3 separate regions of the Homo sapiens genome follow, and all the other regions are linked to region 3. The links come from fine-mapping of genetic effects on gene expression. A gene starts in region 3. Each other region holds a variant in brackets. All regions are shown on one strand. Distances are between the middles of the regions.

Region 1 (10,699 bases), 290 kb before region 3:
ACAAGCCCAGATTGTGAAGGATGCAATAAATACCTAGCTCTTCAATGCCCAGACACTGATAAACATCCGCAAGCATCAAGACCATCCAGGGAAATAGACACCAGGGATTAATCCCAGAGAGAGAGAGAGAAATTTGACCTTTCAGACACAGAATTCAAAATAGCTGTCTTGAAGAAACTCAAAGAAATTCAAGATAACACAGAGAAGGAATTCAGAATCCATTAGATAAATTTAACAAAGAAATAGAAATAATTAAAAAGAATTAAGCAGAAATCCTAGAGTTGAAAAATGCAATTGACATACTGAAGAACTCATCAGAGTCTTTTAATAGCAGAATTGGTCAAGCAGAAGAGTTAGTGAACTTGGGCTGTTTGAAAATACAAAGTCAGAGGAGACAAAAGAAAAAAGAAAAAAAAGAATGAAGCATGCCTACAAGATCTAGAAAACAGCCTCAAAAGGGCAAATTCTAAGAGTTATTGGCTTTAAAGAGGAGGTAGAGAGAGAGGTGGGGTTCATTCAAAGGAATAATAATAGATAACTTTCCAAACCTAGAGAAAGATATCAATATTCAAGGATAAGAAGGTTATGGAACACCAAGCAGGTTTAACCCAAAGAAGACTACTTCAAGGCATTTAATATTCAGACTCCCAAAGGTCAAGGATAAAGAAAGGATTCTAAAACCAGCAAGAGAAAAGAAACAAATAACATACAATGGAGCTCCAATAGGTCTGGCAGCAGACTTCTCGATGGAAACCTTACAGGTCAGGAGAGAGTGGCATGACAATATTTAAAATGCTGAAGGAAAAAAAAACTTTTACCCTAGAATAGTATTACTATATCTGATGAAAATATCCTTCAAACGTGAAGGAGAAGTAAAGACTTTCCTGGACAAGCAAAAGCTGAAGGATTTCATCAACACAAGATCTATCCTACAAGAAATGCTAAAAAGAGTTCTTCAATCTGAAAGAAAATGATGTTAATGAGCAACAAGAAATCATCTGGGCCAAGGTGGGAGAATTGCTTGAACCCAAGAGTTTGAGGTCAGCCTGGGCAATGCAGTGAGACTCCACCTCTACAAAAAAAAAAATTGTTTTAATTGGCTGGGCATAGAGGCTCATGCCTGTGATCCCAGCACTTTGGGAGGCTGAGGCAGGAGGATCGCTTGAGCCTGGGAGGCTACAGTGAGCTATAATCAAGCAACTGGACTGTAGCCTGGGTGACAAAGTGAGACCTTGTCAAAAAAAATTAAAAAAAAAAAAATCATCTGAAGGTACAAAACTTACTGGTAATAATAAGTACTACACAGAAAAACACAGACTATTCTAACACTGTCATTGTGGTATGTAAACTACTCATATTTTAAGTAGAAAAACAAAAAGACGAACCAATCAAAAATAATAATTACAGGCTGGGTGCAGTGGCTCACACTTGTAATCCTAGCACTTTGGGAGTCCGAGGTGGGCGGATCACGAGGTCAGGAGATGGAGACTAACCTGGTTAACACGGTGAAACCCCATCTCTACTAAAAATACAAAAATTAGCTGGGCATGGTGGCACATGCCTATAATCCCAGCTACTCGGGAGCCTGAGGCAGGAGAATCACTTGAACCCAGGAGGCAGAGTTTGCAGCGAGCTGAGATCGTGCCACTGCACTTCAGCCTGGGCAACAGAGCAAGACTCCATCTCAAAATAATAATAATAATAATAATAATAATAATAATAATAATTACAACAACTTTTCAAGACATAGTACAATAAGATAGAAACAACAAAAAATTAAAATGTGGGGAGACAAAGTTAAAGTTTGTATTAGTTTTTATTAGTTTCCTTTTTGTTTATTAGTTAGTTTACACAATTAGTGTTACATTGTCATCAGTTTAAAATAATGGGTTATAAGATATTATTTGCAAGCCTCATGGTAACCTCAAATCTAAAAATATACAATGGATACACAAAAAATAAAAAACAAGAAATTAAAACATACCACCAGAGAAAATCACCTTCACTAAAAGGAAGACAGGAAGGAAGGAAAGAAGGAAGAGAAGACCAAAAACAACCAGAAGACAAATAACAAAATGGCAGGAGTAAGTCCTTACTTATCAATAATAACATTGAATGTAAATGGACTAAGCTCTCTAATCAAAAGATGCAGAGTGGCTGAATGGATTTTTTTTAAAAAAGACTCAATGATCTGTTGCCTACAAGAAACACACTTCACCTATAAAGACACACATAAACTGAAAATAAAGGGATGGAAAAAGATGCTTTATGCAGATGGAAACTAAAAAAAGAGCAGAAGTAGCTGTGCTTATAACAGACAAAACAGATTTCAAGACAAAATCAAGGCTGGGTGTGGTGGCTCACACCTGTAATCCCAGCACTTTGGGAGGCCGAGGCGGGCAGATCACCTGAGGTCAGGAGTTCGAGACCAGCCTGGCCAACATAGTGAAACCCCATCTCTACTAAAAATACAAAAATTAGCCTGGCATGGTGGCACACACCTGTAATCCCAGCTACTCAGGAGGCTGAGGCAGGAAAACTGCTTGAACCCAGGAGGTGGAGGTTGCAGTGAGCTGAGATTGCACCACTGCACTCCAACCTGGGTGACAGAGTGAGACTCCGTCTCAAGAAAAAAAGACAAAAACTATAAAAAGAGACAAAGAAGGTCATTACATAATGATAAAGGGGTCAATTCAGCAAGAGAATATAACAATTGTAAATATATATGCACCCAACACTGAAGCACCCAGATATATAAAGCAAATATTATTAGAGATAAAGAGAGAGACAGACTCCACTACAATAATAGCACAAGATTTCAACACCCCACTTTCAGCATTGGACAGATCATCCAGACAGAAAATCAACAAAGAAACATCAGACTTAATCTGCACTATGGATCAAATGGACCTAATAGATATTTATAGGACATTTCACACAATGGTCACAGAATAGACATTCTTCTCCTCAGCACATGGATCATTCCCAAGGACAGATCATATGTGAGGCCACAAAACAAGTCTTAAAGCATAAAAAAAAAAAATAATATCAAGGATCTTCTCTGACCACAATGAAATAAAACTAGAAATCAATAACGAGGAATTTTAGAAACTATACAAACACATGAAAATTAAACAATATGCTCCTGAATAACCAGTGGGTGAACTAAGAAATTAATAAGAAAATTTAAAAATTTCTTGAAACAATAATGGAAACACAACATATCAAAACCTGTGGGATACAGTGAAAGCAGTACTAAGAGGGAAGTTTATGGCTATAAGTGCCTACATCAAAAAAGATAAAAAGTCTGGGTGTAGTCGCTCATGCCTGTAACTCCAGCACTTTGGGAGGCCAAGCTGAGCAGATTGTTTGAGCTCAGGAGTTTGAGACCAGCCTGGGCAACATGGCAAAACCCCATCTCTACTAAAAATACCAAAAAAATTAGCCAGGCACGGTGGCACATGTCTATAGTCCCAGCTACTTGGGCGGCTGAGGCATGCGAATTGCTTGGACCTGGGAGGCGGAGGTTGCAGTGAGCCAAGATTGGCCACTGCGCTCCGGCCTGGGTGACTGAGTGAGACTCTGTCTCAAACAAACAAATGAACAAACATACAAACTTCAGGTAAACAACCTAATGGTGTCTCTTAAAGAACTAGAAAAGCAAGCACAAACCAAACCCAAAGTCAGTAGAAGAAAAGAAATAATAAAGACCAGAGCAGAAATAAATGAAATTGAAACAAATAATACAAAGGATGAAAACAAAAAAATCATTTTTTGAAAAGACAAATAAGGCCGGGCGTGATGGCTCACACCTGTAATCCCAGCACTTTGGGAGGCTGAGGTGGGGGGGATCACAAGGTCAGGAGATCGAAACCACGGTGAAACCCCGTCTCTACTAAAAAATACAAAAAATTAGCTGGGCCTGGTGGTGGGCGCCTGTAGTCCCAGCTACTCGGGAGGCTGAGGCAGGAGAATGGCGTGAACCTGGGAGGCGGGGCTTGCAGTGAGCCAAGATCGTGCCACTGCACTCCAGCCTGGGTGACAGAGCGAGACTCCGTCTCAAAAAAAAAAAGAAAGAAAGAAAAGATAAACAAAATGACAAACCTTTAGCCAGACTAAGAAAAAAAGAGAGAAGACCGAAATAAATAAAATGAGAGGTTTTGAAAAGGGAGACGTTACAACTGATACCAAGAAATTCAAAGGATCTTAGGTACTACTATGAGTAAGTATATGCCAACAAATTGGAAAACCTAGAAAAAAATAGATAAATTTCTAGATACATGAAACCTACTGAGTTGAACCATGAAGAAATTCAAAACTTTAACAGACCAATAGTAAGTAACAATTTCAAAGCCAAAATAAAAAGTCTGCTGGCAAAGAATAGCCTGGGGCTCAATAGTTTCACTGATGAATTTTACCAAACATTTAAATAACTAATACCAATCCTACTCAAACTATTCAAAAAAATTGAGGAGGAGGGAATACTTTCAAACTCATTCCATGAGGCCATTATTACCCTGATAGCAAAACCAGACAAAGACACATCAAAAAAAAAAAAAAAAAAGAAAGAAAGAAAAGAAAAAAGAAAGAAAACAACAGGCCAATATCCCTGATGAACATTGATGCAAAAATCCTCAACCAAATACTATTAGGTTGCTGCAAAAGTAATTGCGGTTTCAGACTGTAAATTTTAAATCATTATAACTAGGCTCAAACACATCTTTATTAATCAAAACAGGAAACATTACAATCAACACATTTTTGCCAGTGAGAAATCTTTATTCCTATGGTGTAAAAATCCATGCTTCAGGATTCAACAAACTCTTGGAAATCATTTTCTGCATCCTGCTGGTTGTGGAAGCGTTTTCCGTACAAAAAGTTGTTGAGATGCTTGTAGAAGTGGTAGTCAGTTGGTGAGAGGTCAGGTGAGTATGGCAGATGAGGCAAAACTTCATAGCCCAATTTGCTCAACTTTTGAAGCGTTGGTTGTGTGACGTGTGTTTGGGTGTTGTCCTGGAGAAGAATTGGGCCCTTTCTGTTGACCAATGCTGGCTGCAGTTGTTGCAGTTTTTGGTGCATCTCGTCCGTTTGCTGAGCATAGTTCTCAGATGTAATGGTTTTGCCAGGATTCAGAAAGCTATACTGGATCAGACCAGCAGCAGACCACCAAACAGTGGCCATGACCTTTTTTGGTGCAAGTTTGGCTTTGGGAAGTGCTTCGGAGCTTCTTCTCAGTCCAACCACTAAGCTGGTCGTCACCAGTTGTTGTATAAAATCCACTTTTTGTCACATGTCACAATCCGATCAAGAAATGGTTCACTGTTATTGCATAGAATAAGAGAAAACAACACTTCAAGACAACATTTTTTAAAATTTTTGCTCAGCTCATGAAGCACCCACTTATCAAGACACCTTTTTTTCACCTTTTTTTCCCACCTTTTTCACCTTTTCAATTTGCTTCAAATGCCACATGACCATAGAATGGTCGAGGTGGAGTTCTTTGGCAATTTCTCATGTAGTTGTAAGAGGATCAGCTTTGATGATTGCTGTCAATTGGTCATTGTCAACTTCTGATGGCTGGCCATACACTCCTCATCTTCAAGGCTCTTGTCTCCTTTGCAAAACTTCTTGAACCACCACTGTACTGTACATTCATTAGCAGTTCCTGGGCCAAATGCCTTATTGATGTTATGAGTTTTCTTGCTGCTTTATGACCCATTTTGAACCCAAATAAGAAAATTGCTCTAATTTGCTTTTTGTCTAACATAATTTCCGTAGTCTAAAATAAACATAAAATAAACAACAAATAATAAGTCATTAGCAAGAAAACATAAAGCGAGAAATGTCCATTAAAATGATGTATGACCTAACCACATTTATTGAAGAATGTATTCCAACATCAAACGGCAAATTCCAACAATGCAAAAACTGCAATAGTTTTGCACTCACCTTAATAGCAAACTGAATTCAACAACACATTAAAAAGATGATTCATCATGACCAAGTGAGATTTATCCCAGGGATGCAAGGACGCAAGGATGCAAGGATGTCATATGCAAATCAATCAATGCAATACATCATATCTACAGAATGAGGGACAAAACTATACTATCATTTCAATTCACACTGAAAAAGCATTTGATAAAATTCAACATCCCTTCATTATAAAAACCCTAAAAAAACCTGGGTGTAGAAGGAACATGTTTTGGCCGGGCGCGGTGGCTCACACCTGAAATCCCAGCACTTTGGGAGGCCAAGGTAGGTGGATCACTTGAGGTCAGGAATTCGAGACCGGCCTGACCAACATGGTGAAACCCCATCTCTACTAAAAATACAAAAAAATTAGCCAAGCATGGTGGCGCACACCTGTGATCCCAGCTACTCAGGAGGCTGAGGCAGGAGAATCACTTGAACCCAGGAGGCGGAGGTTGCAGTGAGCCGAGATTGCACCATTGCACTCCAGCCTCGGTGACAAGAGTGAAACTCTGTCTGGAAAAAAAAAAAAATAAGAACATACTTCAACATAGCCCTACATGACAGACCCACAGCTAGTGTCATACTCAATGGTGAAAAACTGAAAGTCTTTCTTCTAAGATCTAGAGCATGACAAGGATGCCCACTTTCATCACTGTTATGCAACATGGTACTGGAAGTCCCAGCTAGAGCAATCAGACAAGAAAGAGAAAGAAAGGGCATCCAAATTGGAAAGGAAGA[A/C]ATCAAATTATCCTTGTTTGCAGATGATATGATCTTATATTTAGAAAAACCTAAAGACACCACTAAAAAATTATTAGAACAGATATACAAATTCAGTAAACTTGCAGGAAATAAAACAATATACAAAAGTCAACATGCAAAATCAACATATATCAGTACACACAGCTATTATTGGGTTAAAAAAAAAGAGAACATAACATATAAAAATCATTTCTAGGCCAGGCATGGTGGCTCAAGCCTGTAATCCCAGCACTTTGGGAGGCAGAGGCGGGTGGATCACAAGGTCAGGCGTTCAAGACCAGCCTGGCCAACATGGTGAAACCCTGTGTCTACTAAATATACAAAAATTGTCCAAGCATGGTGGTGCGCACCTATAGTCCCAGCTACTCAGGAGGCCGAGGCAAGAGAATCACTTGAACCTGGGAGGCAGAGATTGCGGTCAGCTGAGATCGCACCACTGCACTCCAGCCTAGGCAACAGAGTAAGACTTCATCCTCCCCCAAAAAAATAAAAAATAAAAAATAAATTAAAATAAATTTTAAAATCGGCCTGTAATCCCAGCACTTTCAGAGGCTGAGGTGGGCAGATCACGAGGTCAGGAGATCAAGACCATCCTGGCCAATGTGGTGAAACCCCCATCTCTACTAAAAGTACAAAAATTAGCTGGGGATGGCGGTGTGTGCCTGTAATCCCAGCTACTTGGGAGGCTGAGGCAGGAAAATTGCTTGAACCCGGGAGGCGGAGGTTACAGTGAGCTGAGATCACGCCACTGCACTCCAGCCTGGTGACAGAGCTAGACTCCGTCTCAAAAAATAACTAACTAAAAATTAAAATTAAAAATTAAAAAATAATAAAAAATGTTTCTATATGCCAACAGTAAACAATGTGAAAAATCATAAAAGTAATCCCATTTACAATAGCTACAAATAAAATAACATACCTAGGAATTAATTTAACCAAAGAAGTGGAAGATTTCTACAATGAAAACTATAAAACATTATTGAAAGAAATTGAAGAGGACATTAAAAAAGGAAAAATAGTCCATGTTCATGGATTGGAAGAATCCATATTGTTAAAATGTCCATACTATCCAAAGTAATCTATGTATTCAATACAATACCTATCAAAATACTAAAGACATTCTCCACAGAAAGAGAAAACACAATCCTAAAATTTATATGGAACTGCAAAAGATCCAAAATAGCCAAAGCTATCCTGAGAAAAAAAACAAAAACAAAAACAAAAAAACTGGAGGAATCACATTACCTGACTTCAAATTATACTACAGAACTGTGGTAACCAAAACAGCATAGTACAGGCATAAAAGCAGACACATGGACTAATGGAACAGAATAGAGAACCCAGAAACAAATCCATACATCTAAGGTGAACTCATTTCTCAACAAAGGGGCCAAGAGCATACAATGGAGAAAAGACAGCGTCTTCAACAAATGGTGCTGAGAAAACTGGATATCCATATGCAGAAGAATGAAACTAGACCCCTGTCTTTCACTATATACAAAACTCAAATCAAAATGGATTAACGACTTAAATCTCAGACCTCAAACTATGAAACTACTAAAGAATATATTGAGGAAACGCTCCAGGACATTAGACTGGGCAAAGGTTTCTTGAATAATGCCCCACAAGCACAGGCAACCAAAGCAAAAATGGACAAATGAGATCACATCAAGTTTAAAAGCTTCTGCACAGCAAAGGAAACAGCAAAGTGAAGAGACAACCCACAGCATAGGAGAAAATATTTGCAAACTATCCTTCTGACAAGGAATTAATAACCAGAATATATAAGGAGCTCAAACAACTCTATAGGAAAAAATCTAATAATCTAATTTTATTTATTTATTTATTTATTTATTGAGATGGAGTCTCGATGTCGCCCAGGCTGGAGTGCAGTGGTGCCATCTCAGCTCACTGCAAGCTCTGCCTCCCGGGTTCATGCCATTCTCCTGCCTCAGCCTCTTGAGTAGCTGGGACTACAGGCGCCCGCCACCATGCCCGGCTAATTTTTTTGTATTTTTAGTAGAGACAGGGTTTCACCGTGTTAGCCAGAATGGTCTTGATCTCCTGACCTCGTGATCTGCCTGCCTCGGCCTCCCAAAGTGCTGGGATTACAGGTGTGAGCCACCGTGCCCGGCCTCATTTATTTATTATTATTTATTTTGAGATGAAGTCTTGCTCTGTAGCCCAGGCTGAAGTGCAGTGGTGCAATCTCGGCTCACTGCAACCTCCCCCTCCTGGGTTCAATCAATTCTCCTGCCTCAGCTTCCCAAGTACCTGGGATTACAAGCATGCACCACCATGCCCAGCTAACTTTTTGTGTAGAGACAGGGTTTCACCATGTTGGTCAGGCTGGTCTCGAACTCCTGACCTCAGGTGATCCACCCGCCTCGGCCTCCCAAAGTCCTGAGATTACAGGCATGAGCCACTGTGCCTGATCTGTATGTCTCCTTTTGATAAATGTCTATTCAGATCTTTTGCCCATTTTAAAACTGGATTGGCCGGGCACAGTGGCTCACCAAATATCTGAATAGACATTTATCAAAAGGAGACATACAGGTCAGGCGCAGTGGCTCATGCCTGTAATCCCAGGACTTTGGGAGGCCGAGGGGGGAGGATCACCTGATGTCAGGAGTTTGAGACCAGCCTGACCAACATGGTGAAACCCCGTCTTTATTGAAAATACAAAAATTAACTAGGCATGGTGGTGCATGCCTGTAATCCCAGCTACTTGGGAGGCTGAGGTAGAAGAATTGCTTGAACCTGAGAGGCAGAGTTTGCAGTGAGCCAAGATCGTGCCACTGCACTCCAGCCTGAGTGACAGAGCAAGACTCCATCTCTAAAAAAAAAAAAACTAAAAGAGTATAATTGGATTATTTATAACACAAAGGATAAATGCTTGAGGGGATGGATGCCTCATTTCCCCTGATGTGATTATTACACATTGTATGGCTGTATCAAAATATCCCATATGCCCCATAAACATATATACCTACTACATACCCTCGAAAATTAAAAATAAATTTTTATAAGTAAATTTTAAAAACTGTCAAAAAATCTGACTTCTAAGAGTTGTTGCATGGATTGAATGAGAGAACAATAAGTCAAAGTGCTTAGGTGCCTACTAAAGAGAGAGCCAGGAGGAAGGCCTTGTCATCTCTGAAACAGGATAGGGCAGACAGAATTACGACATGAGTCCTGAAGAGCCATCCCCTTGCCTTTTCTGATATACTTAGAGCTCTCCTCTCTTTCAAGCCACATATGCCTGACCCTTCCTCATTTCCTCACGTGGCTTTGTCCCTCCTCTAGCTTTGCTCTTGGGAAAGGAGCCTGTGCTTCTGTTTTTTAATCTGGTTTCTTCATCTGGAATGACCTTCCCGCCACCGTCAGACAAACAGCTTTCTGCTCTGCCTGCAGTCCGTGGAGAGGTGCTGATAAGGAAGAGGGCTTCCTGGATCCCTCTGGTTCATTGTAGCCTCACTTCAATGTGGTGCAGTGCAATGTCAAGAGCAGCGTTAAAGGCTCTGTTGTGTCTCCTCCACCAACCCCATTCTAGCCTCAGAACATTAGGATTGCTCACACACACTCTGGCTGATGTTGACTGCCATCGCCTGCCTTCCATTTAAGGTTTTTGTTTTGTTTTGTTTTTCTGAGACAAGGTTTTGCTCTGTCCCCTAGGCTGGAGTGCAGTGGCACGATCTTGGCTCACTGCAGCCTCCACCTCCCAGGTTCAAGTGATTCTCATGCCTCGGCCTCCCACGTAGCTGGGATTACAGGCACAGCCACCACGCCCAGCTAATTTTTGTATTTTTAGTAGAGATGGGGTTTCACCATGTTGGCCAGGCTGGCCTCGAACTCCTGGCCTCAAGTGATCTGCCCACCTCGGCCTCCCAAAGTGCTGGGATTACAGGCGTGAGCCACTGCACCCAGCCCCATTTAAGGTTTTTGAGGGATCCAAGCTGTAACT
Region 2 (10,699 bases), 25 kb after region 3:
AGGCTGAGGCAGGAGAATCACTTGAATTTGGGAGGCGGAGGTTGCAGTGAGCCAAGATCGTGCCACTGCACTCCAGCCTAGGGGACAGAGTGAGACTCCCTCTCAACAATAAATAAATAAAATTAAATTAAAAATAGAGGCTGCCTATTCGGACTTTTTTCCCCCGAGACGGAGTCTTGCTCTGTAGCCCAGGGTGGAGTGCAGTGTTGCGATCTCAGCTCACTGCAACCTCCGCCTTCCGGATTCAAGCAATTCTCCTGCCTCAGCCTCTCGAGTAGCTGGGATTACTGGTATGCACCACCATGCCCAGCTAATTTTTGTATTTTTAGTAGAGATGGGGTTTCACCATGTTGGCCAGGCTGGTCTCGGACTGCTGACCTCAGGTAATCCTCCTGCCTTGACCTCCCAAAGTGCTGGGATTACAGGTATGAGCCACTGCATTTTTTGTTTTTTTTGTGTTTTTTTTTTTTTTTGGTGACAGTCTTGCTCTGTCGCCAGGCTCAGGTGCAGTGGCACTATCTCAACTCACTGCAGCCTCCACCTCCTGGGTTCAAGCGATTCTCCTGCCTCAGCCTCCTGAGTAGCTGGGACTATAGGCGCGTGCCACCATGCCCAGCTAATTTTTTTGTATTTTTAGTAGAAACGGGGTTTCAGCATGTTGGCCAAGATGGTATTGGTCTCCTGACCTCGTGATTCACCCGCCTTGGCCTCCCAAAGTGCTGGGATTACAGGCATGAGCCACCGCACCCGGCCTGAAGCCTCTTTTAAAAGGGCCTTGGAGCCAAGCACGGTGGCTCACGCCTGTAATCCCAGCACTTTCGGAGGCCAAGGAGGGTGGATCGCTTGAGCCCAGGAGTTCGAGACCAGCCCCGGCAACACGGCGAAACCCTGTCTCTATGAATAAAGATACAAACATTAGCTTTCTGGGTTGCGTGTGCCTGTAGTCCCAGATCCTCAGGAGACTGAGGTGGGAGGATTGCTTGAGCCCAGGAAGTGGGGTTGCAGTGAGCTGAGATAGTGACACTGCACTCTAGCCTGAGTGACAGAGCCAGACCTTATCTCCAAAAATAAATAAATAAATAAAATAGGCTGAGCGTGGTGGCTAATGCCTGTAATCCCAGCACTTTGGGAGGCCGAAGCGGGCGGATCACCCGAGGTCAGGAGTTCAAGACCAGCCTGACTGACAGGGAGAAACCCGGTCTCTACTAAAAATACAAAATTAGCTGGGCGTGGTGGCACATGCCTGTAATCCCAGCTACTTGGGAGACTGAGGCAGGAGAATCACTTGAACCTGGGAGGCGGAGGTTGCGGTGAGCTGAGATCACACCATTGCACTCCAGCTTGGGCAACAAGAGCGAAACTCCGTCTCAAAAAAATAAATAAAAATAAATAAAATAAATAAATTAAAAAAGGCCTTAATCCCATTAACAAGGGAGCAGCTCTCATGGCCTAATCACCTGTTAAAGGCCTCACCTCTTCATACTATCACATTGGCAACACCTGAATTTTGGAAAGGACACATTTAAACCACAGCAGAAATACAATAGAAATTTAGGAGTATCATCTGCTAAACCAACATCCAGTTTTGCTGAACTCTGAGGTTCTGTATGTCCAAATACACTTGACTCTTGAACCAAGTTGGGGGTTAGGGGCACTAATTCTCTGTGTAGCAGAAAATCCACAAGTAACTTTTGACTCCCTGAAAACTTTACTAACAGCCTACTGCTGACTGGAAACCTTACCAATAACACAAATAGTTAATTAACACATATTTTGTATGTTAAATGTATTATATACTGTAGTCTCACAATAAAGTAAGCTAGAGAAAACATAATCATAAGGGAAATAAAATATTATTTTTTGTGTGTGTGAGATGGAGTCTCGTTCTGTCGCCCAGGCTGGAGTGCAGTGGTGTGATCTTGGCTCACTGCAACCTCTGCCTCCCAGGTTCAAGTGATTCTCCTGCCTCAGCCTCCCAAGTAGCTGGGACCACAGGCACCCACCACCACGCCCGGCTAATTTTTGTATTTTTAGTAGAGACAGGGTTTCACCATATTGGCCAGGCTGGTGTCAAACTCCTGACCTTGTAATCCGCCTACCTTGGCCTCCCAACGTGCTGGGATTGCAGGTGTGAGCCACCGTGCCTGGCTGGGAAATAAAATATATTTATCCTTCAGGAAGTGGAAGTGGATCATTTAAAAGGTCTTTATGCTCATCATCTTCACACTGAGTAGGCTGAAGAGGAAGAGGAGGAGTTGGTCTTACTGTCTTGGAGTGGCAGAGGTGGAAGAAAATCTATGTATAAGTGTACCCACACAGTTGAAACCCATGTTGTTCAAGGGTCAACCGTAGTGTGTAATCCCTTTCTTTGTTAAATATTTAATCTAATATACCCCACCCCATTTTCTCACAACATCTGTGTGAAGTACATTCTTTCCCCTGCGTATTAAAAGTAGTACATTTTGAATTTTATCTACTAGAAGAATGTTTAGTGTTTTGTGGAGGATTGTCAGTCTGCCCATCTAGCTCTGTTAACTACTTAGCTCAGTTAGTTATGAGTGTGGTGCATTTAATGAGGCCAAAGTCATTGAGTTAGTCTCCAGAAGAGCAGTTATTCCAATTAGCCTTACTCGCCTCAGTTTTTTTTTTTGTTTTTTTTTTTTTTTTTGAGACAGAGTCTCGCTGTGTCGCCCAGGCTGGAGTGCAGTGGTGCAATCTCAGCTCACTGCAACTTCTGCCTCCTGGGCTCAAGTGATCTTCCTGCCTCAACCTCCCGAGTAGCTGGGATTACAGGTGAGTGCCACCACGCCTGGCTAATTTTTGTATTTTTAGTAGAGACAGAGTTTCACTATGTTGGCCAGGCTGGTCTCGAACTCCTGACCTCGTTATCCACCCGCCTCGGCCTCCGAAAGTGCTGGGATTACAGGTGTGAGCCACCACGCCTGGCCTCGACCCCCTTTTATGCTAGCCTCAGCTGACCATCCTGCTCACTAGTACACTGTGGGTCATAGGGGGCCAAAAACATGAGGCTGGTAACATTCCATCCCTGTTATTCATAGATGATATTTAAGTTAATGGTTGTTTTTTTATTGAATACATTTCAATGCCAGGTATTAGATGGTATTATCCCCATGTTGGAGATTAGGAAACTAAAGTGCAGAGAGTTTGAATAACATGCCCGAGACTATAAAGCAAGAATTGGAAGCCTGTTCTCCCTGTCTCTAAAGTCTTCTACTTTTGTGTTATTGAAAGACCAACTTAGTGATGGGGCACTTGTTTGCAAAGATGTGTAAGTGAGACAGTCACTGTCCTTAAGGGGCTCATAGTCTTCTGAGGGGTTAGGCGTGTAAGCCAATAATGACAATGCACTGTGATAAATGATATAACGAAGGTATGTTTATAATTGAGAGTGAGTGTCTTGCAATCAGTGATTGTCTAGAAGATCTCAAAGTTAGTTTTCTCTGTTTTTTATTCCCTCCTTCAGCTCTTATTTACTGAGTTCCCGTTATTTACTAGTCACTATTTTAGGTTCTTAAGACACATCAATGAGTGAAACTGCCTTTGTGAAGCTTTGGTTTTAGTGGAGGGAGACATTGAAAAATAAACATAATGAACCAGTAATTTACATAGTATGTTAGGAAGTGAAAAGTGCTGTGGAAACAGTAAACAGGGTTAATGGGATCAGGAATGTTAGGGCAGGGTGGAGACAGATGTTGTACTTTTTTTTTTTTTTTTTTTTTTGAGACGGAGTTTCGCTCATGTTGCCCAGGCTGGAGCGCAATGGTGCAATCTCTGCTCACCACAACCTCCACCTCCCAGATTCAAGCGATTCTCCTGCCTCAGCCTCCCGAATAGCTAGGATTACAGGCATGCGCCACCATGCCCGGCTAATTTTGTAATTTTAGTAGAGATGGGGTTTCTCCACATTTATCAGGCTGGTATTGAACTTCCGACCTCAGGTGATCCGCCCGCCTTGGCCTCCCAAAGTGCTGGGATTACAGGCGTGAGCCACCGCGCCCAGCTGATGTTGTACTTTTAATAGGATGGTCAGGGTATACCTCACTGAGAGGATGACAATTTCAGGAGAATTCTAAGGAGTCAAAGGAGTGAGCCATATGTATATGTGGAGAAACGTATTTCAGGCAGAGAGAAGAGCCTGTGCGAGGGCCATAAGCTAGGAGTATACTTGATGTATTAGAATTGTTTACAATGTTACTGAGGTTGGAGGTAGTAAGTGAGGGGACAAGTGGTGGGAAGATGAGATTAGAGAGGAAGGGAGAGGGAGTGTGGGGGAAAGATGTAGGGCTTTATAGGCCAGTGGTTCTCGTTGTCTGGTCTCTGGACCAGTAGTATCAGCATCACCTGAGAACTTCTTAGAAATGTACATTTTAACCCCACCCTTTACCCGCTGAATCATAAACTCTGGGGATGGGGCCTAGAAACCTGTATGTTAACAAGCCACTGTCCTGATGCATACTAAGGTTTGAGAACCACAGTTTTGGCTACTGTAAGAGTTTTAATGTTACGCACCTACATGACTGCAAATTCTTAGGACTGATGTAGCTTTAAGTTCAGTACCCGAATAACTGTAGAGCTTTGGCTTTAGAGTCTTTCAGTTCTGGTTTCAAATTATGGCTTCCTCACTTTCTAGTTATGGGGACTTGGATCAGCTTGTGAGGATTACATGAGGGGAAGAATACACAAACATCACACACAGACATGCACATACACAGACAGAGTTACTAGGGAAGATGAGTCTCTGTCAAGACAACTATTCACATGAAAGAACTTCCAAATTTTGGACTGCTTAAGTTTAGAAGTTGAATTATTAGCTGGTTGTTAACATACCTCATACCACATCTATCAGCCACATTTTTTGTTTCTACTTGAGGTTTTGTGATCCTGTCATGGGTAGTTGCCTGTCAGGAATAAAATCAACACCTATAACCCCTATCAGGGTCTATGTTGAGTGCTAGAGAAGAGAAGGGCAGGCACACTGAAACAAGGCAGGAAAGGATCAGTTCTTCAGTTCTTTTTTTTTGTTTTGAGACAGGGTCTCACTCTGTTGCCCAGGCTGGAGTACGGTGGCACCATCTCAGCTCACTGCAAACTCTGCCTCCAGGGCTCAAGTGATCCTCCCACCTCATCGTCCTGAGTAGCTGCGACTACAGGCAGGTGCCACCAATCCTGTATATTTTTTGTCTTTTTTCTAGCGATGGGTTTTC[A/G]CCACGTTGCCCAGGCTGGTCTCTAACTCCTGGACTCAAGTAATTTGCCTGCTTTGGCCTCCCAAAGTGTTGGGATTACAGGCGAGTGCCCCTGCGCCCAGTCAGGATCAGTTTTTGTTTGTTTGTTTGTTTTTGAGACGGAGTTTTCACTCTTGTCGCCCAGGGTGGAGTGCAATGGTGCAACCTTGGCTCACTGCAACCTCCACCTCCCGGGTTCAAGCGATTCTCCAGCCTCAGCCTCAACGAGTAGCTGGGATTACAGGTGCTCACCACAACGCCTGGTTAATTTTTGTATTTTTAGTAGAGATGGGGTTTCACCATGTTGGCCAGGCTGGTCTCAAACTCCTGACCAGCCTTGGCCTCCCAAAATGCTGGGATTACAGACGTGAGCCACCACGCCCAGCCTAGGATCAGTTCTTTAAAAGGAACAGATGATGGTGTGTTGTTGGGGTTCAAGAGAGGGAAAGAGTACTATTATCTAGCTTTGCAGTTTATGTCTTGGAAAATTTACTATAGAGGGCGTAGCTCTGGGTGTGACCCTGAACAAAAACATAATCTCTATGATTTATTCATTGATTAATTTAATAATCACTTAATATGTGGAAAAATACCCGAGGGACTATACATAAATTATAGAATCTGAGGGTTGAAAGAGAGGGACACAACTAGAAAGTGAGGGAACCATGATTTGAACTCTTGGGATAGGAAAGAAACATGAAGGTCATCCATATAAGGAATGGCATTTTTCTCTCTTTAAAAATAAAACGTTGGCCAGGCATGGTAGCACATGCCTGTAATCCCAGCACTTTGGGAGGCAGAGGCAGGAGGATGGCTTGAGCCCAGGATTTCGAGACCAGCCTGGGCAACATAGCAAGACCTCGTCTCTACAAAAAATGAAAAGCTGAGTGTAGTGGTGCATGCCTGTAGTCTCAGCTACTTGGGAGGCGGAGGCAGGAGGATGGCTTGAGCCCAGGATTTCGAGACCAGCCTGGGCAACATAGCAAGACCTTGTCTCTACAAAAAATAAAAAGCTGAGTGTAGTGGTGCATGCCTGTAGTCTCAGCTACTTGGGAGGCTGAGGCAGGAGGATTGCTTGAGTCTGAGGGGTTGAGGCTGCCGTGAGTCATGATGACACCACTGTACTCCAGCCTGGGCAACTGAACAAGACCCTGTCTCAAAAAAAAAAAAAAAAAAAGTTTAGCCAGGTGTGGTGGTGTGCACTTGTAGTCCCAGCTACTTGGGAGGCTGAGGCAGGAAGATTGCTTGAGCCCGTGAATTTGAGTCCAGCGTGGGCAACGTTGTGAGGCTCCTGTCTCTTAAATAAATAAATAAATAAATAAAATGTTGAGTTTTAAAATACAGTTTCTAATAGAAAACTTAGAAATTGTAGAAGGATGTAGGCCGGGCGCAGTGGCTCACACCTGTAATCCCAGCATTTTGGAAGGCTGAGGTGGGCAGATCACCTGAGGTCAGGAGTGCAAGACCAGCCTGGCCAACATGGTGAAACCTGGTCTCTACTAAAAATACAAAAATTAGCCGGGTGTGGTGGCGTGCACCTGTAATCCTAGCTACTCAGGAAGCTGAGGCAGGAGGATCGTCTGAACCCAGGAGGCGGAAATTGCAATGAGCCGAGATCAAGCCACTGCACTCCATCCTGGGCAACAAGAGTGAAAATTAGGTGTCAAAAAAAAAAAAAAGAAAAAAGAAATTATAGAAGGATGTGGAAATAATTCACTCATTATCCCTTTATCTGGAATTAGGCTTTATAAGCATGTTGATGCCTTTATATAGTTCCTTTCAGTTAAAAAATATTTTTGGGCCGGGCACAGTGGCTCACACCTGTAATCTCAGCACTTTGGGAGGCCGAGGCGGGCGGATCACAAGGTCAGGAGATCGAGACCATCCTGGCTAACATGGTGAAACCCCATCTACTAAAAATATAAAAAATTAGCCAGGCTTGGTGGCGGGCGCCTGTGGTCCCAGCTACTCGGGAAGCTGATGCAGGAGAATGGCGTGAACCCGGGAAGCAGAGGTTGCAGTGAGCCGAGATGGCGCCACTGCAGCCTAGGTGACAGAGCGCGACTGCATCTCAAAAAAAAAAAAAGTAATTTAAAGACAGTAAAGTGCACAAATTCTAAGTATATAAGTATATAGCTTAATATATATATATACACACACACACATGCATTTAATCATCACCCAGATCAGTTCTTTCCAGATTTTACTATGTGTAGGTGTATGTGTATATATTTTAACAGAGTGATAATGTGTAATGTAAAATTTTGTTTTGACTTTTTTCACTTGATGTTCTATCATGAATATTTCTTGATACTGTATCGTGAGTATGCTCCTGAAATTCCATCGATCTTAGTTAAGAGTTAATTATAAGGAGCAGAGACCCACTCAAAAAACCCACTCAAGTTGAATTCATATCAAATTAACATGTTGTATATGAGATAACAGACAACATCTTAAAAGATGATCCCACATCAAAACAAAGATCTTTCTGGTGGACCCGTGGAGTATTTAAGATTTTTCTTTTTTCAAATATCCATGTACACTTATTTTTACACACTTGTAGGGGTTTTTCTGGAGCATTAATTGCTAAAACTGGACTTTGGTGAATCCAAGAAATGTACTTTTTTTTTGAAATGGAGCCTCGCTCTGTCGCCCAGGCTGAAATGCAGTGGTGTAATCTCGGCTCACTGCAACCTCTGCTTCCTGGGTTCAAGCGATTCTACTGCCTAAGCCTCCCTAGTAGCTGGGGCTACAGGTGCTTGCCACCACGCCCGGCTAATTTTTGTATTTTGAGTAGAGACGGGGTTTCAAGTTGGTCAGGCTGGTCTCGAACTCCTGATCTCAGGTGATCTGTCTGCCTCGGCCTCCCAAAGTGCTGGGATTACAGGCATGTGCCACACTGCACCTGGCCCAAGAAATGTGCATTTTAAATTTTAATAGATATTGCTAAATTACTTTCCTTAAAAATTGTGCCAATTTAGACCTCTGCTAGTAATGTTTAACATTCCAGTTTCTTTATACCTGTAATAAAGTGTTACCGCTTTTCTGAAACGTTTCCAATCTGCTAGGAAGAACATATCTTTTTTTCTGGAGACGGAGTTTCACTCTTACTGCCCAGGCTGGAGTGCAGTGGTACAATCTTGCCTCACTGCAACCTCTGCCTCCTGGGTTCAAGAGCTATTCTCCTGCCTCAGCCTCCCAAGTAGCTGGGATTACAGGCGTGTGCCACCACACCCCTGGCTAATTTTTTGTATTTTTAGTAGAGACGGGGTTTTACCATGTTGGTCAGGCTGGTCTTGTACTCCTGACCTCAGGTGATCTGCCCATCTCTTCCTCCCAAAGTGTTGGGATTACAGGCGTGAGCCACCGTGCCGGCCCAAACATATCTTGTTTTAATCTGAATTTAATTATTAGGCTGAACATCTTTTCATATAGTTCATATACATTTGTTTATTCTATGAATTGTCTGTTCAGGCCTTTTGTCCATATTTCTGTTGTGGTGTTTATCTTTTTTTCTGATTGATTTGTGGAAACTCTTTTTCTGTTACGAATATTTTGTTGTATGTGTTCTAAATATATTTCTGTGCATTAAAAACAGGTTGTCAGGAAATATATCAAAACTTCAAACATAGTCACAATGAAATAATATATACATACACATAATATATATTTATAAAATTGGGATCATCAGAGAAATACAATTTTGTATCCTTTGCCTGCCTGCCTGTCTTCCTTCCTTCCTTCCTTTTTGCTCTCACTCTCTCTTCCTTTTCATCTTTTTCTTTTTCTTTCTTTCGAGGCAGAGGTCTTGCTTTGTTGCCCAGGCTGGTCTCAAACTCCTGGGCTCAAGCAGTCTTCTTGCCTTAGCCTCCCGAGTAGCTGAGATTACAGGGTTGTGCCCAATGCCTAGCTTGTGTCTTCCATTTTTAATTTACTATTTAAAAATGCTAAATATTTCTTTTTTTTTTCTTTCTTTTTTTGAGGTGGTGTTTTGCTCTTGTCGCCCAGGCTGGAGTGCAGTGGTGCAATTTTGGCTCACCACAACCTCTGCCTCCTGGGTTTGAGCAATTCTCCTGCCTCAGCTTCCTGAGTAGCTGGGATTACAGGTGCCCGTCACCATGCCCAGTTAATTGTTGCATTTTTAGTAGAGACAGGGTTTCGCCATATTGGCCAGGCTGATCTCGAACTCCTGACCTCAGGTGATACGCCTGCCTCGGCCTCCCAAAGTGCTGGGATTATAGGCACGAGCCACTGCGCCCAGCGAACTTTATTTGTTTTTTTTTTTTTTTTGAGACAGGGTCTCCCTCTGTTGCCCAGGCTGGAGTGCAGTGGTGCAAACATGGCTCACTGCAGCCTCGACCTCCTGGGCTCATGTGATCCTCTTGCCTCAGCCTCCTGAGTAGCTGGGACTACTGGGCTAATTTTTAAATTTTTTGTAGAGATGGATTCTCACCTTGTTGCTTAGGCTGGTCTTGACCTCCTGGTCTCAAGCAGTCCTCTTGTCTTGTCCTCCCAAAGTGCTGAGATTACAGGTATGAGCCACTGCACCTAGCCCGTTTAAAAATGTGTAATTCAGTGGTGTTTAGTATATTTATGGTTTTGTGTAGCCATCAGCATCATGTAGTTTCAGAACATTTTCATCTCCTCAAAAGAAAATGCTGCACTCATTAAACAGTTACTTCTCATTTCCTTGTCTCCCAAGCCTGTGGCAACTAGTAGTCTGCTTTCTCTCTCTGGATTTACCTATTCTGGATGTTTCATGTAAGTGGAATCATGCAACATGTGGCCTTTTGTGTTTGGCTTTTGTGTCTGGCTCCTTTCAGGTAGCGTGATTTTTTTTCTTTTTTTTTTTTTTGAGACAGAGTCTTGCTCTGTCGCCCAGGCTGGAGTGCAGTGGCGCGATCTCAGCTCACTGCAACCTCCATCTCCTGGGTTCAAACAATTCTCCTATCTTAGCCTCCTGAGTAGCTGGGATTACAGGTGCCCGCCATCGTGCCCAGCTAATTTTTGTATTTTTAGTAGAGACAGGGTTTTACCACATTGGCCAGCTGGTCCCGAACTTCTGACCTCCAGTGATCTGCCCATCTTGGCCTCCCAAAGTGCTGGGATTACAGGCGTGAGCCACCCCGCCCAGCCTAGCAGGATGTTTTTAAGGTTCATCCATGTTGTAGCATGTGTCAGCACCTTATTCCTTGTTATGGCTGAATAATATTGTATTATTGGGATATTTATATGGTATGAATAATACGTACCATATTTTGTTCCTTCATCTGTTGATGGACACTGGGGTTGTTTCCACTTTTTGCCTGTTGTGAATAGTGCTGCTATGAACATTCATGTACAAGTTTCTGTCTGAACACCTGTTTATGTATATATCCAAGAATGGAATTGATGGGTCATATAGTAACTCTGAACTTTATAGTAACTTTAAGAAACTGCCAAAATGTCTTCACAGC
Region 3 (10,699 bases):
GATTCATTCCCTCCACTCTTACTTAGACTGATCTGTTGTGATCATATTCTCCCTTCTCTCTAGTTTGGTGTTGCTTTTGCAAGGTATAGACTTGCAAGATATAGCCCTGCTGTTCGTGCATTCCTTCAAGGCAAGAAGCAAGACTGGAGGGAGTAATAAAAAGGCAAGTAATCTCCTGTCTCTTCAAATTGATGGTTTCAAAACACTTGTTGAGGCAGGGTTCAGTGGCTCACACCTGTAATCCCAGCACTTTAGGAGGCTGAGGTGGGAGGATCCCTTGAGCCTAGGGGTTCCAGACCAGCCTGGGCAACATGGTGAAAACCCATCTTAATTAAAAAAAAATTATAATTAAATGGCCGGGTGCGGTGGCTCACGTCTGTAATCCCAGCATTTTGGGAGGCCGAGGCAGGCGGATCAGGAAGTCAGGAGATCGAGACCATCCTGGCTAACGAAGTGAAACCCCGTCTCTACTAAAAATACAAAACAAAATTAGCCGGGCGTGGTGGCGGGCGCCTGTAGTCCTAGCTACTCGGGAGGCTGTGGCAGGAGACTGGCGTGAACCCGGGAGGCTGAACTTGCAGTGAGCCAAGATTGTGCCACTGGACTCCAGCCTGGGCGACAGAGTGAGACTGCATCTCAAAAAAAAAAAATTATAATTAAAAAAAGATGACAAGTCAGTTGGGTATATAAAGCTAGAGTCCGGGGGTAAATTCCAGTTAGAGTTAATATATGTAAAGTTCTTAAAACAGTGCTACGTGTTTCTTTTTAAGCTGTCAGATTGTGTCACTCCTTTGCTCAAAACTCTCCGGTGATTTCTCATTTTATTCAGACAATGGCAAAATCTTTCCAGTGTGCCTACAAGGCTCTCCATGATTTATCCTCTTACCCAACATCTACTTTGGTGATGGTTAATACTAGCTGTTGTAACAAATAAACCCCACAGTACCAGTGGCTTCACACAACTGAAGTTTATTTTTTGTTCACAGGACAGTCCGGTGTGGGTATTCTTGGTCAGCTGGAGCCTTTCCTCCATGTGCTTTACCATTACTTAGAGCCTCAGAATCTTCTAATTCTAGCTGGTAGAAGGCAAAAATAGAAAGAAGGGAGAAGTCTAATCTGCTTCTTAAGTGCCCTGACCTAGCAGTGACATACATAAAGTCCTACACACATTCCATTGTTGAGAACTAGTCACATGGCCACATCTGGATGCAAGTAGGGCTGGGCAGTGTCCCTGAGGAGGCGGGTCCACACACTATGGAAGGGAAAATTGATGTTTTTGAATTGCAAGCCAACTCCACCACACCTTCTACCATCTTCCACCAATCCTCCCCACCCTAACCCTCTCCAGCCACCCTGGCTTCCTTATTGCTCCATGAACACTCCAGGCACACTCTGCCGCACACCCTCTCCTGGAGTTATGTTCCCTCAGATGTCCACTTGCTCTCTCATGTTCCTCATGCTAAAATGGGTGTCCCAGATTGCCACTTATTAAAAGTATATTATGTCCCAGATTTTAAAAATTCCTTTTTCCATTAATTTATGAATCTTCAGTGCAATTCTGTGAGGGGTCAGAATGACTCTTCTCATTTCAGAGTGTTTAACTGATGTACCCCAGCTTACACAGCTAGTAAGAGTGGGAGTGGATTTAAACATTAAATCTTCACGCCTGTAATCACAGCACTTTGGGAAGTCAAGGTGGGCAGATCACCTGAGGTCAGGAGTTCGAGACCAGCCTGGGCAACATGGCGAAACCCCGTCTCTACTAAAAAAAAAATTAGCCCGGCATGGTGGCGCAGGCCTGTAGTTCCAGCTACTCAGGAGGCTGAGGCAGGAAAATAGCTTGAACTCGGGAGGCAGAGGTTGCAGTGAGCTGAGGTTGTGCCACTGCTCTCCAGCCTGGGTGACAGAGCGAGGCTCTGTCTCAAACAAACAAAAAAACATTAAATCTTGGCTTGGCGCAGTGGCTCACGCCTGTAATCTCAGCACTTTGGGAGGCCGAGGCGGGCAGATCACGAGGTCAAGAGGTTGAGACCATCCTGGCTAACAGGGCGAAACCCCGTCTCTATTAAAAATACAACAAAATTAGCCACTACAGGTGGCGGGCACCTGTAGTCCCTGATACTCGGGAGGCTGAGGCTGAGAATGGTGTGAACCTGGGAGGCGGACCTTGCAGTGAGCAGAGATCACCACTGCACTCCAGCCTGGGCGACAGAGCGAGAATTCATCTCAAAAAACAAACAAACAAAAATACAAAAAAAAAAAAAAATTAGCCAGGCATGGTGCGCGCGCCTGTAGTCCCAGCTACTTGGGAGGCTGAGGCAGGAGAATCGTTTGAACCTGGGAGGCGGAGGTTGCAGTGAGCCGAGATGGCGCCACTGCACTCTAGCCTGGGTGACAGAGCGAGACTCTCTCAGAAAAAAAAAAAAAAAAAAAAAGAAAAAATCTTAAGAGCATCCCTTTCTATATTTTCTGACTCTCTAAGAAGCAATCACTCTGCCAAACTTATTTCCTACCGGGAAGGAGATCACTTCACAGTTGAGTATTCTGGGCTTCTGAGCAGTTACATTTCCCAGGGCAAATTAATACAGTTATGCATTCGTTTTTAACTTGTGTTTTACGAGTTGAGTTAATATGAGAGGTCGTCTAGCACCAGATCACCCTGGACACCTTGGATAAAAAGTTTCTGGACTTTTCAGTTGAGGACGTTTATTCCTTTCTCAAATTTCTTTTTCCACATCACCCCTAGAGTGATCATTCTCAGATTTGGGTCAGATATCACTCCTTGGCTTGAATTCCTTTACTTTACCTCACTCATCCTCAACTCATATATCTTATAGGATAAATTATTTCTAAAAAATACTATTTATTTATTTATTTATGACAGGGGTCACATTATGTTCTCCACTCTGGTCTCAAACTCCTGGGTTCAAGCAGTCCTCCTGCCTCAGCTGCCCAAAGTGTTGGGATTACCAGCGTGAGTGTGAACCACGACGCCTGGCCGAGGATAAATTCTTTAGCCTGGTATTTGAATCCATGCCTCCTTCCTCTGTTCTCCTTCTTCCTCCCCTGCCCTGGTTTCATTCCCTTTAAACTCTCCATCTCCCATCTTAATGTTAATGAATTACTTGTTGATGCCTGAACATACCCTTTTATCTGTTGCTCCCTGTTGTTACACATACTGAGTTAAACATCTTTCCCTGCCCCTTTTTACCTGAGAAACTTCCTGTTGATCCTCTGGAACTCAGGTCAGAGTATATACCTCCTTCTGGAAACCTTCCCTGACCATTCCCCAATCTGGAAAGATGTCCTCCTTCTGTGCTCTGTAACTTTCTTTTTTTCTTTTTTTTTTTTCAGGGTGTCTCTGTTGCCAGGCTGGAGTGCAGTGGCGCCATCTTGGCTCACTGCAACCTCCACCTCCCGAGTTTAAGCAATTCTCCTGCCTTATCCTCCTGAGTAGCTGGGATTACAGGCACCACCATACCCAGCTAATTTTTATAATTTTAGTACAGATGGGGTTTCACCATGTTGGCCAGGATGGTCTTGATCTCCTGACCTCGTGATCTGCCTGCCTTGGCCACCTAAAGTGCTGGGATTACAGGTGTCAGCCACCACGCCTGGCATATTTATTTATTTATTTATTTATTTATTTAGAGGTAGAGCCTCATTCTGTTGCCCAGGCTAGAGTGCAGTGGCACGATCTCGGCTTACTGCAACCTCTGCCTCTTGAGTTGAAGCGATTCTCCTGCCTCAGCCTCCTGAGGAGCTGGGACTAAAGTTGCCTGCCACCACACCCTGCTAATTTTATATTTTTGGTAGAGATGGGATTTCACCATATTGGTCAGGCTGGTCTTGAACTTCTGACCTTAAGCGATCCGCCAGCCTTGGCCTCCCCAAGTTCTGGGATTACAGGTGTGAGCCACCACGCCCAGCCTCTGTGACTGTTTAACTCACTAATCCCCCTCTACTGTCTCTGTGTCCCCAGCATGCAGGATACGGGTGGAGCATCACCATGAATGGGCGTTTTGAAGCAACCTTCTCCTCCCCACTTTTCTCCCCCTAGTTCAGGCAGGTTAGATACAGGGAGGAACAGGTGCTATGGCTCCGAGAGACAATGGCTATAACCTCTAGGTAAACCTCCCCAAGGGAAACAATATTTGAGAGAAGTACCCAGGAGAACCTAGGAGAGAGCCTAGGCTCAGCCTTTGGGGAAGCCAGCTGCCTTCTACAGCTCTTAGTGGCAGCCTCCCAGAACAAACCGTAAGAGTACTTCCTTCTGGAACAATAATAATAATCCAGGCTGGGGGCTCATTGGCTCATGCCTGTAATCCCAGCACTTTAGGAGGCAGAGGAGGGCGGATCACCTGAGGTCAGGAGTTCGAGACCAGCCTGACCAACACGGTGAATCCCTGTCTCTACTGAATACAAAAAATTAGCCGAGTGTGGTGGTGCGCGCCTGTAATCCTAGCTACTTGGGTGGCTGAGGCAGGAGAATCACTTGAACCTGGGAGGCAGAGGTGCAGTGAGCCGAGATTACGCCATTGCACTCCAGCCTGGGCAACAAGACAGAACTCCGTCTTGAAAAAAAAAATCTGTAATATTTACTGAGTGATTTCCATGTTCCAGGCAGTATTCTCATTGTTTTACCTGTACTTGCATTTACCTTATGTAATTGTCTCAAAAACCATGACGCCAGGCACTTAGAGATTAACTTGCTCAAGGTCAAAAGTAAATGATCGTCAGGATTGAAATCCGAGCATTTTTTTCTAGAGCCCATGCTAGTGACCACTATACCTGTGTTGCCTTTCTGGCCTCTGATCTCCAGTTTCCAACAAAGACACATCTGCCTAGCTTCTATGGGAAAGGAAATCGGAGGGTCCTAGGACAAGGACCAATAGGTAAGTTTCCCTTCGCCTCCTCCCTATCCTCTTACAGGAAAACAGGTTTAGGGGTGGATCTGAGAGTTTTCACAGAGTGAAGAGGAAGAGGAGCTCCCAAATGGCAGGCGCCTCTGGAGGCTTCCAGAGAAAAAAGGAGAGAGCGTGGGAAAAGGGCAGGCTGGGAGGTGGGAGCGGCGAGGAACGGGGAGCTGACCACAAGCCCAGGATTCCAGACCAGGCTTATGTCTCTTAGACTCAGCGTAACCTTGGATAAGTCCTTGCTTCTTTCTGAGACTCAGTTTCCCCGTCTGTAAAATAAGGGTAAATATAAAACCGGCTCATCCGCCCCTGCCAAAAGAGAGGACAGGGAGAAGGCCCTGTCTGGGGTCTAGGCTGACACGCTGCAGCTAGGATTAGGTGAGCTTCCGAGCTCAGTCGTGAGACCCCATCCTCATGGCAAGGCCGCGCTAAGATCTCTGGACCTCTGCTTGCTGGGTGGGTGGTTGGGGGCAGAGCATGGGCCAAATGCCCGGCTCTGCAGGCTGCGCCCACTCTTCTCGCACCTCCTCAGCCCTCCCTAAAGGAGTCTCAATCCCGGGGGAGTGGCAGTTGCGGGCGACCAAGCAGTCACCGGCTGCGCTGCGGCGACCTCCCGGGAAGCTGCGGCCGGCGGGGTCCGAAGAGCATCACGTCATCCTTTCCCCCAGGAGCCCGCCCCCTCCCAGACGGCGCCTGCGCAGGCGCGGTAGGAGGAGGGTCACGGTGGGGGCTGTCCACGCGCTCTCCGCCCTTCTCCAGGCTCGCTCGGGCCGCGGCGCTCTCGGCTAGCTGCAGCGGCGGCGGCGCGGAGGGGAAGGCATCCAGGATGCGGTGCGGGGCGGCCCGGTGCCCCCCCGCCCCGTCACGGCAGCCGCGGCGGCCGAGGGGACCGGGCCAGGGCCGGGGGCGGCGGCCCGAGCCGCGGTAGCGGCGGCGGCGGGAGGGGCGGCCTGAGGGCGGACGGGCGGGCGCCCGGGTTGCGGGGGCTCGGTGCCGCTCCGCACTGCCCGGCCGGTCTCGGCCCCGGCGCCATGAGTGGCGGCGGCGGCGGAGGGGGCTCGGCGCCCAGTCGCTTCGCCGACTACTTTGTCATCTGCGGACTGGACACGGAGACCGGGCTGGAGCCGGACGAGCTGTCGGGTGAGTGCGCGCCGAGCCCGGGGCGCTTTCCCGCGCCCGCTGTCGTCGGGGACCCCAGAAGAAACCTTCCTTCAGCCCCGCTTTGTCCCGGGAGCCGGGCGAGTGTCGGCCGGGAGGACCAGGGCGGGCGCGGGCGAAGGGGGCTTTGGACTGGAGGGGGGAAACGGATGAGGGGCTCTGAGCCATGAGGGGTCCAAACCTACGGCCCGCTGCGCAGTGGCCACGTCTTCGGCGACCAGAAAGAGGGAGGGTTGTGTGTTCTCAGTTTGGTGTAGGTTGAGTGACTTCGTTTAAAATAAAGGAAAGCTTGTCCTCTGGCACCCATTAGGGAGGGAAGGCGTCCCACGTCCTAGTGAAAGTAAGTTCCACCCAGACTTAAAAAAAAGGAAAACAAAAACTTGGTGAGTTTATCTGGCCACTTCCCAAGAAGCTTGTGATACTAGTTCCTCAAAACCGTTATACCCCAGCCCTGGGCTGGGCCCCCTGAGTCAGATTGCAGCTCTGCGCGTCTGGATGGGATATGAAGTAATAAAGTGAACTTGGGCGGCACCAAGAAGAGTAGGAACTCCCTTAGCCTTGGAAAGGGCTTGTATCCCGGGGCCATGCCTTTTTTGAAAAGTAATTTATGTCCTTTATGAGGACAGAGGCGTTTGTGAATAAAAGGGTAGCAGCATTGTAGTTGGAGAGGCTTGGTGTGTTCTGATGCGTTTCAAGTCATATTTGAAAGGGAAAGTGATGAGGGGAGTCAAAGATGGGGCCCTGACCAGATTTGGCACTCACTGCAGAAGGCCGTGAAAATTATACAGTCCCCGTGAATTTTCCACTGCACTGTCATTGGAGTCTTTGAATTGTAACAGTTTTGAAAATAAGTTTTTGTCTGGAGTTTCCAGTTAGTGGGTTTCAAGTGGGTGGAGGTTTGTCGGGTTGTACTTTAAGGTTGTGTCATCCTGATGAGGGGGACTCCTTTTCACTTTTCTGTCACTGTAAAGTTTCTCTTTCGAAAGTGATTATCCTGTTGACTAATCTTACTCGGCTTCAACGATGACAAGACAGTTTTGTTTTTGGGCACCAGAAAAAGTCCAGTGTTTCTTTTTTTTTTTTTTTTTTTTTTTGAGACGGAGTCTCGCTCTGTCGCCCAGGCCGGACTGCGGACTGCAGTGGCGCAATCTCGGCTCACTGCAAGCTCCGCTTCCCGGGTTCACGCCATTCTCCTGCCTCAGCCTCCCGAGTAGCTGGGACTACAGGCGCCCGCCACCGCGCCCGGCTAATTTTTTGTATTTTTAGTAGAGACGGGGTTTCACCTTGTTAGCCAGGATGGTCTCGATCTCCTGACCTCATGATCCACCCGCCTCGGCCTCCCAAAGTGCTGGGATTACAGGCGTGAGCCACCGCGCCCGGCCCAGTGTTTCTTATGAAAAAAAAATTAGGCGGGGCGCGGTGGCCCACCACCCGGCGGCTCAGGGGTAATCCCAGCACTTTGGGAGGCCGAGGCGGGCGGGTCACCTGAGGTCAGGAGTTCGAGACCAATTTGGCCAACATGGTGAAACCCCCGTCTCTACTAAAAATACAAAAATTAGCCGGGCGTCGTGGCGCGTGCCTGTAATCCCAGCTACTCAGGAGGCTGAGGTAGGAGGATCGCTTTAACCCAGGAGGGGGAGGTTGCAGTGAGCTGAGATTGCGCCAGTCTGGGTGATTGCGCCACTACACTCCAGTCTGGGTGATAAAGCGAGACTCTGTCTGGGAAAAAAGAAAAAGAAGAAAAAAGCATGATAAATTCATGCTTTAACAAGGTTAGAAAAAAATGAGCTATTTCCTCAATAGCAGGTGGAGAAAATATGAAGCAGTAATATAATTAATATTAGGCTTTTTGTCGGGGTAGTTTTATGGTTTCTAATTTACTTTAAAAAAATTTTAGTTTTAGGCCGGGCGCGGTGGCTCACGCCTGTAATCCCAGCACTTTGGGAGGCTGAGGCGGGCGGATCACGAAGTCAGGAGATCGAGACCATCCGGGCTTACAGGGTGAAACCCCGTCTCTACTAAAAATACAAAAAATTAGCCGGGCGTGGTGGCGGGCGCCTGTAGTCCCAGCTACTCAGGAGGCTGAGGCAGGAGAATGGCGTGAACCCGGGAGGCGGAGCTCGCAGTGAGCCCAGATCGCGCCACTGCACTCCAGCACTCTAGCCTGGGCGACAGAGCGAGACTCCGTCCAAAAAAAAAAAATTATTTTGATGAGTACCTAATAATTGTTCAAGTTTATCTTTTAAGGTCTTCAAATTCTTATAGTACAGATGTTTTTCATCTTTTTCATATGTAGTAAGTTTGTGACTTTGATGTAATTTTTGGAATTCGGTTCAGGGTATTGGTGTTGGAAGGGACCTCAGAGGGGAAAATGAGGCCCAGGAAGGACAGTGGGGCCTGTATACACTAGTTAATTGCTTGGTCCAGTGCTCTTCTCATGACATTAAACTGCATCTCATTGGCCTGGCTGGAGGTCTTTAGAAAACACTAACATGTTGAGAAATATTAAAAACAACATAATTCTTCTCAGTAAAAGAAACTAAGGTGGTGGAATAAACTTTTTTTTATGCGTGTTTTTGAGTGTCAAATTGTATGAACACTTGGTTTGAGAAGATAGAATGTTTTGCGAATGATAGAGCATAAGAATGAAGCTGGGAAGTTAACTGTTAGCGAGAGCATGAGTTTAGGGTAATATTCCTGCTCTCCTATTGACTATCTTTGTGATTGGGAGCAAGTTAGAGATAACCCTGTCAGGGTCCTCATCTATAAAAAAAGAATGTAAATAAAAATAATCTCATCAAGTAGACCTTCAAAAATGTTTAAAAACTGTCTTTCAACATTTCATTAAAAAAGAAATGTTACTGTCTTAATGGATATGTGTTAATTATCTGGCTTTTTGGCAAGCTAAAATTATATCCTTGTGAAAGTTTATTGGGATAATAAAGAAAGGGGGATGAGTTGTATAAAATGTGTAAAGAGGGGTATTTTCTGTTTTTTTAAAAATGTGGTTGCAGTAGTGGAATGCCGAGACCACATTTCCGATAGGTGGCCTTTGTTAGAGTATGCAGTGTTGGAAGGATTTTTTTTCCCTCTTCATTTCATTTCTGGTGGGTTGGTAGGGGAATCTGAACTATCCAGAGGGAATCTTTTTTTTTTTTTTTTTTTGAGACACAGTCTCACTCTGTTGCCCCAGCTGGAATGCAGTGCTGCAATAGTGGCTCACTGAAACCTCCGTCTCCCAGGTTCAAGCAATTCTGCCTCAGCCTCCCGAGTAGCTGGGATTATGAGCCGCGCGTGCCACCACATCAGGCTAATTTTTGTATCTTTAGTAGAGATGGGGTTTCACCATGTTGGCCAGGCTGGTCTTGAATTCTTGACCTCAAGTGATCTGCCCACCTCGGCCTCCCAAAATGCTAGGATTACAGGCGTGAGCCACCACTCCCAGAGGGAATCTTTGAATAAAACAAAGCAGAGTACAAATAGCAGGTTCTTCCTGAGAGTCTCCAGGGTGCATTTTCTCTCCTCAGCCTGCCTTGTAGCTCCCAAACTGATGATATCATACTCAGTAACTAACTACAGGAAATTGTAATTTGTAGCCAGGTTCTCCAAGAAGGTATTAAGGAGTCTCTAAGAAGGTGCACTCCACACAGTTAACTTACATAGCTCAGGTAGCATCTACATTCTTAAAAAGTGAACCCAGAATAAGCAAATCAAAGATGCTCGGTGTTCCTTCTTGTTTTGTGGAGAAAGGTTAAGATTCATTCCTCTCTGTCTGCAACAAATAAACATGGAGGCTGGGCGCAGTAGCTCACACCTGTAATCCCAGTACTTTGGGAGGCTGAGGTGGGTGAATTGCTTGAGCCCAGGAGTTTGAGACCAGCCTGGGCAGCACGGCAAGACTCTTATCTCTACAGAAAGTACAAAAAATTAGCTGGGTGTGGTGGCATGCACCTGTGGTCCCAGCTGCTCAGGAAGCTGAGGTGAGAAGGTCACTTGAGTCTCAGAGGCAGAGGTTGCAGTGAACTGAGATTGTGACACTGCACTCCAGCCTGAGCAACAGAGTGAGACCCTGTCTCAAATAAACAAATACAACTAAAAATAAAAAATAAAAAAACCCAAATAAGCATAGAGCTTGCTGTGTTTAATATAGACTGAGGTAATTGGATTTTGTAGGAATCTCTTCCTGTCACTTCTTTCCCTTTCTTGCAGACTCAGCATTTAGGCAAGTAATGTAGTTGTTTTTTGTGCAAGGAATTGAGGAATGTGTGAAAATTAATTTTGTTTTCTGGTTGAGGAAGCTCTTTGGGCTAGAAGGAGAAGAAGGTAATATGTGAGCAAAGCACAGATTTAGCCACCTTGAGGATATGGTGTCTGCTTGTTGGCTTTTTGAACTTGTCAGTTAGGTAAGCAAATCTGGAAGAATTGCTTCTGATTTATGTTTTCCATTATTTTTGGCACATCGTAAGTGGGGAGGCAGATGATAGTGGAGTTCAGTTTCTTTTTCTACCTCTGATGGGCGAATGTCCTGGTGAATCTTCTTTTTCTTTGTTTCTGATGGTCACCACTAGGTGACCCCAGGAGAAGGTTTTACTGTGAAATGGGGTTCATGAGTTTATTTTCCTTGT

The links. PIP is the estimated chance that this variant, and not a neighbour inherited with it, causes the effect.
Region 1: its variant is the best candidate, but not a certain one, in a credible set for the expression of DENND5A in whole blood (INTERVAL, PIP 0.88).
Region 2: its variant is the best candidate, but not a certain one, in a credible set for the expression of DENND5A in whole blood (TOPMed, PIP 0.50).

Annotation. Positions count from the first base shown.
Region 1 is chr11:9,551,490-9,562,188 of GRCh38, reverse strand. No RefSeq gene overlaps it. Among named protein-coding and RNA genes, the nearest start is that of WEE1, 17 kb to the left of the region's middle. RefSeq lists a cis regulatory region at 9,763-10,391. The variant A/C (reference allele first, on the strand shown) is at 6,715.
Region 2 is chr11:9,235,057-9,245,755 of GRCh38, reverse strand. All of the region lies in intron 1 of DENND5A (DENN domain containing 5A), which reads left to right. Among named protein-coding and RNA genes, the nearest start is that of DENND5A, 25 kb to the left of the region's middle. The variant A/G (reference allele first, on the strand shown) is at 5,226.
Region 3 is chr11:9,260,318-9,271,016 of GRCh38, reverse strand. It overlaps DENND5A (DENN domain containing 5A), which reads left to right and starts at 5,667. Exons shown (of 23, transcript NM_015213.4): 1 at 5,667-6,056. The coding sequence starts at 5,948. RefSeq lists enhancers at 5,366-5,435, 6,516-6,635, 6,796-7,135 and silencers at 5,716-5,815, 5,866-6,225, 10,095-10,154.